Regions from separate parts of the Homo sapiens genome. Here region 1 is linked to region 2. The links come from fine-mapping of genetic effects on gene expression. A gene starts in region 2. The other region holds a variant in brackets. All regions are shown on one strand. Distances are from middle to middle.

Region 1 (5,000 bases), 570 kb before region 2:
CTGTGTTCAGAAATGTTTAGATATACAAATACTTACCACTGTGTTACAGTTGCTGACAGTATTCAGCACAGTAACATGGTATACAGGTTTGTAGCCTAAGAGCAATACCTAGATACCTACTAGGTGTGTAGTAGGCTATACCTTCTAGGTTTTGTAAATATTATCTATGATGTTCACACAGTGACAGAATCACCTAATGATGCATTTCTCAGAATGTATCCCTGTCGTTAAGCAATGTATTCATAGAATGAAATTCTATATAGGAGTGTTTTTTTCTTTTTTTAAAATTTACCACTTCCTTATATATAGGAGTTTAAGTGAATATTTCCAGAAATACGATCCAACTTTGATAAACCTCAAAGCAATGATTATCATAAAAGGCAAGTTTTAGAGGTTTGTATACACCATGATCCTTTATATATAGGAGTCTCCCCTCCACCCCTTTTTCCATGGCTTCACTTTCCATAGTTTCAGTTACCCACAGGCAACCGCAGTCTGAAAATATTAAATGGAAAATTCCAGAAATAAACAATTTTTTTTTTTGAGACAGAGTCTTGCTCTGTCACAGGCTGGAGTGCAGTGGTGCAATATCAGCTCACTGCAACCTCTGCCTCCCAGGTTCAAGCACTTCTCCTGCCTCAGTCTCCCGAGTAGCTGGGATTACAGGTGCCTGCCACCACACCCAGCTAATATTTGTATTTTCAGCAGAGACAGGGTTTCACCATGTTGGCCAGGCTGGTCTCAAACTCCTGCCCTCAAGTGATCTGCCTGCATCAGCTTCCCGAAGTGCTGGGATCACAGGTGTGAGCCACTGCACGCGGCCCAATTAATAAGTTTTAAATTGTATGCTATTCTGAGTAGTGTGATGAAATTTTGTGCTCTCCTGCTCAGTCCCACCTGGGATGTGAATCATCCCTTTGTTCCGCATATCCATGCTTTATATGCTACTCGCGCATTAGTCACTTAGTAGCTGTTTCAGTTACCGGATTGACTGTTGTAGTACTGCAGCAGTTGTGGTCAAGTAACCCTTATTTTACTTAATACTAACCCCCCATGTACAAGAGTAGTGATGCTGGCATGTTGTTTTAATTGTTCTATTTTTTTCTTAGTTCTTTCTGATAATCTCTTATTTTGCCTAATTTATAAATTAAACTTAAAAAAATTTTTTTTCTTCTTTTTTGAAAATGAAAATGTTTGACTGGCCTGGGAAGGCTCCTCCCACCCCTCAAAGCCAGAGCTAACAAAGTTGTTCCCTTTAGGGTCCAGATGGAGGGAACCAGGATAGGGACTGGGAAGGGACCAGGAAGCAATGAAGGGAAGGAGTGGAAAGGAATAATCCAAATGGAGAGGAATAAAGCCTCCAAAATCTACCTAAAAGTAGGAGATCTTAGATCCAGGGAAACTTCCTCCCAGTGTGGTCAGGGAGACAGCTGAGCTTTAGATGTCAGTGTATTGATTTCCTTTTTTATTGAGACGAAGTCTCACCCTGTCGCCCGGGCTGGAGTGCAGTGGTGCAAACTGGGCTCACTGCAACCTCCGCCTCCCGGGTTCAAGCGATTCTTCTGCCTCAGCCTCCCAAGTAACAGGGACTACAGGCACACGCCACCATGCCCAGCTAATTTTTTGCACTTTTTCACTAGAGACGGAGTTTTGCCATGTTGGCCAGGGTGATCTAGAACTCCTGACCTCAAGTAATCTGCCCGACTCGGCCTCCCAAAGTGCTGGGATTTAAGGCATGAGCCACCGCACCTGTCCTGTATAATGATTTCTGATCAAGTTGGGGGAACCTGGGGTTCTCCACAGATCCCATCCTCATAGGCCACTCGTGTCAACTGAAGAATTCCAAGGTTTATAAATTTGGAAAGGAGAACTTCATTTCTCATAAAGGGTTGCAACCTTCAGGGTGGCCATTCTAACAGGCTGGGAAGCATAGCCCCCAGTCAAAAGCCAGAAATAGGTAGTTCCTCAACTTTATCATAGGTATGTATGTATAGCAAAAAAAATACTATATATAGGGTTCTGTACTATCTGCAGCTGGGTATTCACTGAGAGTCTTAGAACATATCCTCCATGTATAGGAGATATTACTATAAAATATAAATATATGCAAAGTCATACTATATTTGGTTATTTAATACTGTACAGCAAATTACAACAAAGGGGCATAAACTAATCTTTTATTATCTCTCATGTTTCTGTGGATTAGGGATTTAGGAATAGTTTGGCTGAGCAGTTTGTAGTCTTTTGAGGGTGCAGCCCCATGTCAGTCAGGGCCTTAATCATCTGGCTTGACTGAGGCCGGAAGATCTGATTCTAAGGTGACTCACTAACATGGTTGACAAGTTTACTTTTGGTCAAGAAGGTACCACTTCTCCATGTGGGCTTCTCCATAGGGCTGCAGGATTGTCCTCATGATATGATGACCGGCTTCCCCTAGAGCAAGTGTACAAGAGACCAAAGCAGAAGTAAAGCCTATTATGACATAGTCTTGGAAGTACACATCATCACTTCAGCTGTATCATATTGGTTCTGCAGACCAGCCCTGATTTGATGTGGGTGACACTACACAGGGCATGAATATAGACAATCCCTGACTTCTGATGGTTCAACTTATGGTTTTTTGACTTTATGATGGATTTGTTGGAGTAGTAAATGCATTTTTTGACTTACAGTGGGTTTATGCAGAGGTAATCTCATCATAAGTCAAGAGGCATCTATACTATCTTAGTCCATTTCTTTGCTGCTATATCAATTGCAAACTGAGTAATTTATGAAGAAAAGATTGATTTGGCTTACAGTTCTGGGAAATCCAAGATCGAGGAGTCCATCTAGTGAGGGTCTTCTTGCTGCATTGTAACATGTCAGAAGGCATCACATGGTGAGGAAGTGTGCACAGAAGACAGAGAGGGGAAAT[T/C]GACTTGAACTCACCGTTTTTGGGAGTGGATTTTATCAGGAATCCACTCCCCCAGTAACTAACCCACTCCTATGATAATGGCAAAAATCCAGTTATGGGGCAGAGCCTTCATGACCTAATCACCTCTTAAAGGTCCTGCCTCTCAACACTGTTAAAGTGGCAATTAAATTTCAAGGTGAGTTTTGGAGGAGACATTCAAACCATAGCAAATACTTACAGGCAAGAATTATAGAGAGCCTTCTTGAAGGCTGGCTATCACAGTACTAAATATTGTGTATTGAGATATATGTTTGTGTATGTGTGTGTGTGTGTCTGCCTGTGCGTGTGTGTATGTATAAATGGATGGAAATGGTAAACACCAACTACCAACTTCAGGATAGTGGCTTCATTTGGAAAAAGATCACCCTGCTTCAGTGTGGAAAATTGAACTGGAGCAAGGCTGGAATTAAGGACTCCAATTACAATGTAGCTGATAGAAGAAAGAGATGGTGGTGGCCTGGACTAAAATGGTGGTAGTGTAGACAGTATCAGAGGGCTTAGAGCTGTTTAAAAAATAGAATGAAAGGGCCGGGGTTGGTGGCTCACACCTGTAATCCCAGCACTTTGGGAGGCCGAGACGGGTGGATCACGAGGTCAGGCATTCGAGACCAGCCTGGCCAACATAGTGAAACCATGTCTCTACTAAAAATACAAAAAAATTAGCCGGGCATGGTGGCAGGCACCTGTAATCCCAGCTACTCGGGAGGCTGAGGCAGGAGAATCGCTTGAGCCTGGGAGGCGCAGGTTGCCGTGAGCTGAGATTCTGCCACTGCACTCCAGCGTGGGTGATAGAGCAAGACTCCAAAAAAAAAAAAAAAAAAAATCGAATGAAAGCACATGATGACTGATAAGATATGAGGAATGTCAGATTCTGGCTCTATGAATAGTCAAGGATGCCAGGTAATTTTCTGGCTTGGTCAAAAATAAAATAATGGTGGTGTTATTGGTTGAGATTATGGGTGGTTAGGGAAGATGGATTCACTTTTAGGACTTTTGAGTTTCAGTTATGGCTGTGGGAGACCCAATTTCTAGCAGACAATTGAATATAGGCTTGGGATATCATCAGCATTTACATGAGACTTTGGGAGGACGTGAGATTTCCTAGAGAGTGTGTGAATTGAGAAGCACAGAGGCCTAGGACAAAGCACTTAGAAACTTTTAAGGGATGAATAGAGGAAGAATAGCTTATGAGGGGAAATTAGAAGGTCTAGACAGAAAGAAAAGCTAGAAGCATCATAGAAGCTGGTGGGGAAACTTTTTACAAAGGGAGGGAGTCGTTAACATCATTAGATACTGCTAAAACAAGCAAGTTAAGAGCTAAAATTTCTACTGAATTTAGCAACCTAATGTCATGTGTGACCTAGAAGAGGATTTCTTAGTCAAATGATGAGATCCAAATTGCATTGGATTGAACTCTGTGACCTTAGCAGTATTATCTTTTTCTTTTTTTTTTTTTTTTAGACAGAATTTTGCTCTTGTTGCCCAGGCTGGAGTGCAGTGGCACGATCTCAGCTCACTGCAACCTCCGCCTCCCAGGTTCAAGTAATTCTCTTGCCTCAGGTGCCTGAATAGCTAGGATTACAGGTGTCTGCCACCACACCCAGCTAATTTTTTGTATTTTTAGTAGAGATGGAGTTTCACCATGTTGGCCAGACTGGTCTCGAACTCCTGACCTCAGGTGAGCCACCGCGCCTGGCCCAGGAATATTATCTAACGTTACTAGACTCTGTTATTCTTAGCTGCAAAAGAAGGATGTTAGTTTGTATGATCTGTCTGGCCTTCCAACACTGAAATTCTATGATTATATCTCACACTTATGATGCAGAATATTACAGAAAATGGGGAGGAAATCGACAATGTTAAGATCATAAGCCCCTGAAATCATCCATCATATATAGTTCTACTCCAAGTAGCTTTGCGGAAAAACCCCAACATGTGCTTCCTTGTGTACCAAGTCCCTTTCATAATAAGCCCTCAAGATATATACAGGTGATATATTTTAGTGGAGATTTTACTCATTGTTTTGAACACCAGCCAAACTTCATAC
Region 2 (5,527 bases):
TTATGGATAGCCATACAAGGAGGTGTTATGTGGTTATTAAAAATGAGGCAGCTTTTTCTTTTACCCATATATGAAACCATCTATAACACGTATTAATGAAAAAAAAAAAAGGCAAAGTGAAAAACTGCATAGTGTGCTGCCATTATGTGTAAAAAATGCACTGATTTTGACTTATAGAATATCCCTGAAAGGACACTCAAGGAAGTAGAAAACAGTGACTGCTTCCTGGATGAAGAGCTGGGACACAATGGAGAAGACTATTTACCTTTCTTTTTTCTTTTTTTGAGATGGAGTCTCGCTCTGTTGCCAGGCTGGAGTGCAGTGGCACGATCTCAGCTTACTGCAACCTCCGCCTCCGGGGTTCAAGAGATTCTTGTGCCTCAACCTCCTGAGTAGCTGGGACTACAGGCGCCTGCCACCACGCCCGGCTAATTTTTGTATTTTTAGTAGAGACGGGGTTTCACCGTGTTAGTCAGGATGGTCTCGATCTCCTGACCTCGTGATCCTCCCGCCTAGGCCTCCCAAAGTGCTGGGATTACAGGCGACAGCCACTGCGCCCGGCCGAGACTTACTTTTCAATGTACTTTAGCCCTTTTAGAATTGTACATATATCATTTATTCAAGAGGCAGATTTTAAACGTTTTTGTAAAAAGCTAAATAACACCCAGAGTGACTCAAAAAATTTCTCAACTTTGCCCAAGTGAATAGTAAGTCTAGAGTTTTTTGGGTTTTTTTTTTTTTTGTGACAGAGTTTCTCTCTGCCGCCCAGGCTGGAGTGCAGTGGCGATCTTGGCTCACTGCAACCTCTGCCTCCCGGGTTCAAGCGACTCTCCTGCCTCAGCCTCCAGAGTAGCTGGGATTACAGGCGCGCGCCACCACGCCCAGCTAATTTTTGTATTTTTAAGTAGAGACGGGGTTTCACCGTGTTGGTCAAGCTGGTCTCAAACTCCTCCTGACCTCGTGAATCTCTCGCCTCGGCCTCCCAAAGTGCTAGGATTACAGGAGTGAGCCACCGCGCTCGGGCTTTTTTTTTTTTTTTTTTAAACATTCTCTGTTAGCAATCACTTTTAAAAGACTAGAAAATCATTTTTGGTTTTCCAAACCACCTCCACCCAGTGAGTCAGTTAGTAAAAGGGCTGGGTCTCACCGTTTCTCATTGATGGCATGAAGCCCAGGAACCCAAGAGGCAGCTGTTGCAAATTTATGGGGGAAAAAATACACGAAACAGGAAGGGTGACTGAAGATACGCGCAACAGCGAATACAATTTTGCAAAACCGGCTTCTAGGTATGGTAGGATCATTTAAATCCGTCAGTGATGTGGAGAAAGAACATGGAGGCATGGCTAGTCCTCTGCACGGACAGGTAGGTAGCCAACCACCAGTGAGGACTGAAAGACAGTCCTCACTGAAAAGGACTGAAAGTTTGCAGTGGCCAAAATTATCTCTTTTACCTATTCAGTGCTTGAAACTCTTTCCTTGCCTGGAAGGTAACTCATTACACTCATCATCTAATTCGGACACATTTAGCAGATTAGCTGGCCATCAGCTGGCAAAAATCAGGGCGTTTACGGCAGTCGGAAGACAACAGCGTCATGTCTGTCACTTTACGGTGGACATCAGCCATCTACCTCTGCACCTTGGTTTCCTTGCGCAGTGTTTGCACAGGATGAGCTAATTTCAACACAGATTTGCTGCTGGTCGGGGAACAGCAATCAAATCTGGAATGCTATTCTAGAATAGCTTCCAAGAACTGTAAACGAGAACCAGTGTACGACCTTGGCCTGGCGCATTCTGTCCTACGGTTCACTAAACACAGTAAAAATTTCCCCAAGTTTCCCTAAATTCGCTGTGTCACCGGAAAGTACAGCCACTACCAGCCAGACGGCTTTCAGCACTGCCCGTGCGTTTCCCTACTCAGCCTCCCGCGAGGCAGCTGGGCCACGCTCCGGCCTCAGCCCCTCCACCTGCCCGAGGGCGGGGCGCCACTGGTCCCTGGGATTTCCAAACGGACGGAAGGGCTTCCCGTAAGCCAGGCCGGCCGCCTCACCCACGCCACCCCAACACACCCCGGCCGGCAGCCCGGCTACGAGACGCGCAAACCGAGTCGCCGCCATCCGGGAGGCCCACACTGCCCTCCAGCCGCGCCCCACTAGCACCGGGACAGCAGCGCCCAGAGCTGGCCGAGGGCAAGACCACCGAGGCAGACGAGGTGGGAAAGGGAGGGGGGCGCCGCTCCTCACCTGACCCCAGCAGCAGCGTCACAGCCCAACCCGGTCTCCCGCAAGATGGAGCCGGGGGCGGGCCCAGGGTGGGCGGGGCGTCTCGCGAGCCCGTTAGGATCGCGGCTGCAGCCGGGAACACCCCCGGAGCCGGAGAGGGCGCTGCGGGGAGCGGGCTGTCCCTCAGTCCCGCCCCTAGGCGCCACCTGAGGGAAAAAGACTCTCCCTTCGGGTGGCCCAGCGGATTTTTAATCACATTTATCTGTCGCAAGGACCCTGCACCAATCCCTTTTAAGGCTGCCTCAAGTCACCTAGGAAGTTGCAGCAGTCCTGGGGGTATCCGGGGCCCCTTCAGTGGCGGGCGGTAGAGAAGGGCTGAGACTGGGAGGCTGGTGCAGCCTCCCCGCCTCTGAAATACCGTCCTCCAGGTATTTTCTGGGGACAAAGACGGCGTTTTTTGTTAGCCTCCTGTGAAAGTAATATTTGTGGGAAATCTTAGTTGGAACTGTAGATGAACTAATCAAAATCACTCCCGAAAGGAGTTGTTAGGTGATTTTAGGCTCCCCTCGTGGCTACAGCATTGAACACACATTAGCATTAAACATTTGAGGCAATTACGAGGGCTCAGATCAATATTTTAAACTCGTTAAGGAATTTATATTACAGAGAAAACCAATCAGCTACCTTTTAGAGTGGTAAAAGGTAGCTTCTGGGTGTGGTCCCCCGAACAGCAGCATCACCTGGAAACGTGTTAGTAACGCAGATTATTGAACTCCACCTTAGACCTACTGAATCAAACTCCCCGGGTGGTGCCCAGCAACCTGTTTTAACAAGCCTTCCAGGTGGTTCTGATGCACACTAAAGTTTGCACATCTGATGCACATCAACTTACTTATTCCTCTACACACTTTTCTACCCAAAAGCTTCCTCATGGGGGTGGAATAGAGTGGATTACGATTTTAAATGGGAAGAGCAAGCAAAATATACGTGGCTTCCAAATAGGTGTGTGGAGTGAAAAGTATTTGAGGCAGGTCATTGCCTCATTTAACAATGGTAGACAAAATGCACAACTCTCTAGGTGACCAGCATTAATTCCCCGGCGCCCAACAGTCTGTCTACCTGGAAAATAACAGGACTTTCTGTCCTACCTACCCCAGAGACCTCCAGGATTTAAGCCTTCCCTGAGAAGCCTACTCTGTTCATTCTAGAGTTCCCTTTGTGAGCTCGTTCCAAACCCTCCCTCTGCCTTAAATACCACCATAACAGGGTATTTGCCAAACCTCTTATTTCCAGCCCACTTTCCTGAGCTGCAGGAATAGTCCAATAGTCTACTACGACATTTGCCATTTCATCCTTTCAATTCATCCTTTCTTCCTGGCATAAAAGGCGTTACAGGATCGGAGACCCTTTCCTCCTGCTACCTCTGCTTAGAAAGCACTGCTCATCTTTTAACAATTACTCATCTTAATTAGACTTGTTTTCAAGGTTGCTCATCTCCGTCTTGCTCCAATAAACTCTTCCTGATCTTCTTTTTTGTACTCAACTGGACCATTTTAATTTTTTAATTTTTTTGGAGACAGAGTCTTGCTCTGTCACCCAGGCTGGAGTGCTGTGGTGCGATCTAGGCTCACTGCAACCTCTGCCTCCGGGGTTCAAGCGATTCTCATGCCTCAGCCTCCCGTGTAGCTGGGAGGCATGTCACCACGCCCAGCTAATTTTTTTGTATTTTTAGTACAGATGGGGTTTCGCCATGTTGGCCAGGCTGGTCTCGAACTCCTGGCCTCAAGCGATCCACCTGCCTCAGCCTCCCAAAGTGCTGGATGTATTACAGGCATGAGCCACCATACCTGGTCAACATCTCTGAAGGCCATGGTATGTTCCAGAGTTCATGTGAAATAAGAGCCATCATGCTTCTAATGTGAACATCCCACTGTATCAGAGTCTGGTTTTTTTTTGTTTGTTTTTGTAGTTTTGAGACAGGGTCTCATTCTGTTGCCCAGGCTGGAGTGCAATGGCACAATCTCAGCTCATTGCAACCTCTGCTTCCCAGGTTCAACGAATTCTCCTGCCTCAGCCTCCCAAGTAGCTGGGATTACAGGCATCCGCCACCACGCCCAGCTTTTTTTTTTTTTTTTTTTTTTTTTTTTTTTGAGACAGAGTCTCACTCTGTTGCCCAGGCTGGATGGAATGCAGTGGCACGATCTCGGCTCACTGCAAGCTCTGCCTCCTGGGTTCACGCCATTCTCCTGCCTCAGCCTCCCGAGTAGCTGGGACTACAGGTGTCTACCACCACGCCTGGCTAATTTTTTGTATTTTTAGTAGAGACAGGGTTTCACTGTGTTAGCCAGGATGGTCTCGATCTCCTGACCTCATGACCCACCCGCCTCAGCCTCCCAAAGTGCTAGGATTACAGGCATGAGCCACCACGTCCGGCCTAAATTTTTATATTTTTAATACAGACGGTGATTTGCCATGTTGCCCAGGCGAACTCCTGACCTCAGGTGATCCACCCACCTCGGCCTCCCAAAGTGCTGGGATTATTACAGGTGTGAGCCACCACGCCTGGCCCAGAGTCTGGTATTTAAGTTCATATCCTTTTTGTTCCATTAGAATAGTAATTTTGTCCCTCAGGGACACCTGACAATGTGTGGAGACATCTTTGTTTGTCACAACTGAGGGGAGGTGGTGGGGTTACTAGCATCTAGTGGGTGAAAGCCAAGGATTCTAAACAAGGTACGTATCCTACAATGCCTACAGTCCCTACACAAAGAATTATTCAGCCCAAAAAGTCAATAGTGCTGAGGTTAAGAAACCCTGAGTCAGAGTGATCTTTCTAAAGAATAAATTGGGTCATGTAATTCCCGTGATTAAACTTTTTTAATAGCTTCCCACTGGAACCAGAATAAAATAAAATCCAAACTCCTGATGGTCTATTAAGCCCTAGATAATCTGGTCCCTGCCTACATCGCTCATCTAATCCCTTTTCACTTTTTTTTTTTTTTTTTTGAGACGGAGTCTTGCTCTGTCGCCCAGGCTGGAGTGCGGTGGTGCAATCTCAGCTCACTGCAAGCTTCGCCTCCCAGGTTCACACCATTCTCCTGGCTGAACCTCCCAAGTAGCTGGGACTAAAGGTGACTGCCACCACGCCCAGCTAATTTTTTTGTATTTTTAGTAGAGACGGGGTTTCACCATGTTAGCCAGGATGGTCTTGATCTCCTGACCTCGTGATCCACCTGCCTCGGCCTCCCAAAGTGCTGGGATTACAGGCGTGAGCCACGGCGCCTGGCCTTCACTTTCCTTAATCACTA

What was found.
Region 1: its variant is fine-mapped to the expression of ANXA7 in whole blood (TOPMed, PIP 0.97).

What each region holds. Positions count from the first base shown.
Region 1 is chr10:72,845,520-72,850,519 of GRCh38, forward strand. All of the region lies in intron 2 of MCU (mitochondrial calcium uniporter), which reads left to right. Among named protein-coding and RNA genes, the nearest start is that of OIT3, 46 kb to the right of the region's middle. The variant T/C (reference allele first, on the strand shown) is at 2,915.
Region 2 is chr10:73,411,772-73,417,298 of GRCh38, forward strand. It overlaps ANXA7 (annexin A7), which reads right to left and starts at 2,287. Exons shown (of 13, transcript NM_001156.5): 1 at 2,241-2,287. RefSeq lists enhancers at 1,301-1,420, 1,431-1,510 and a silencer at 1,911-2,470.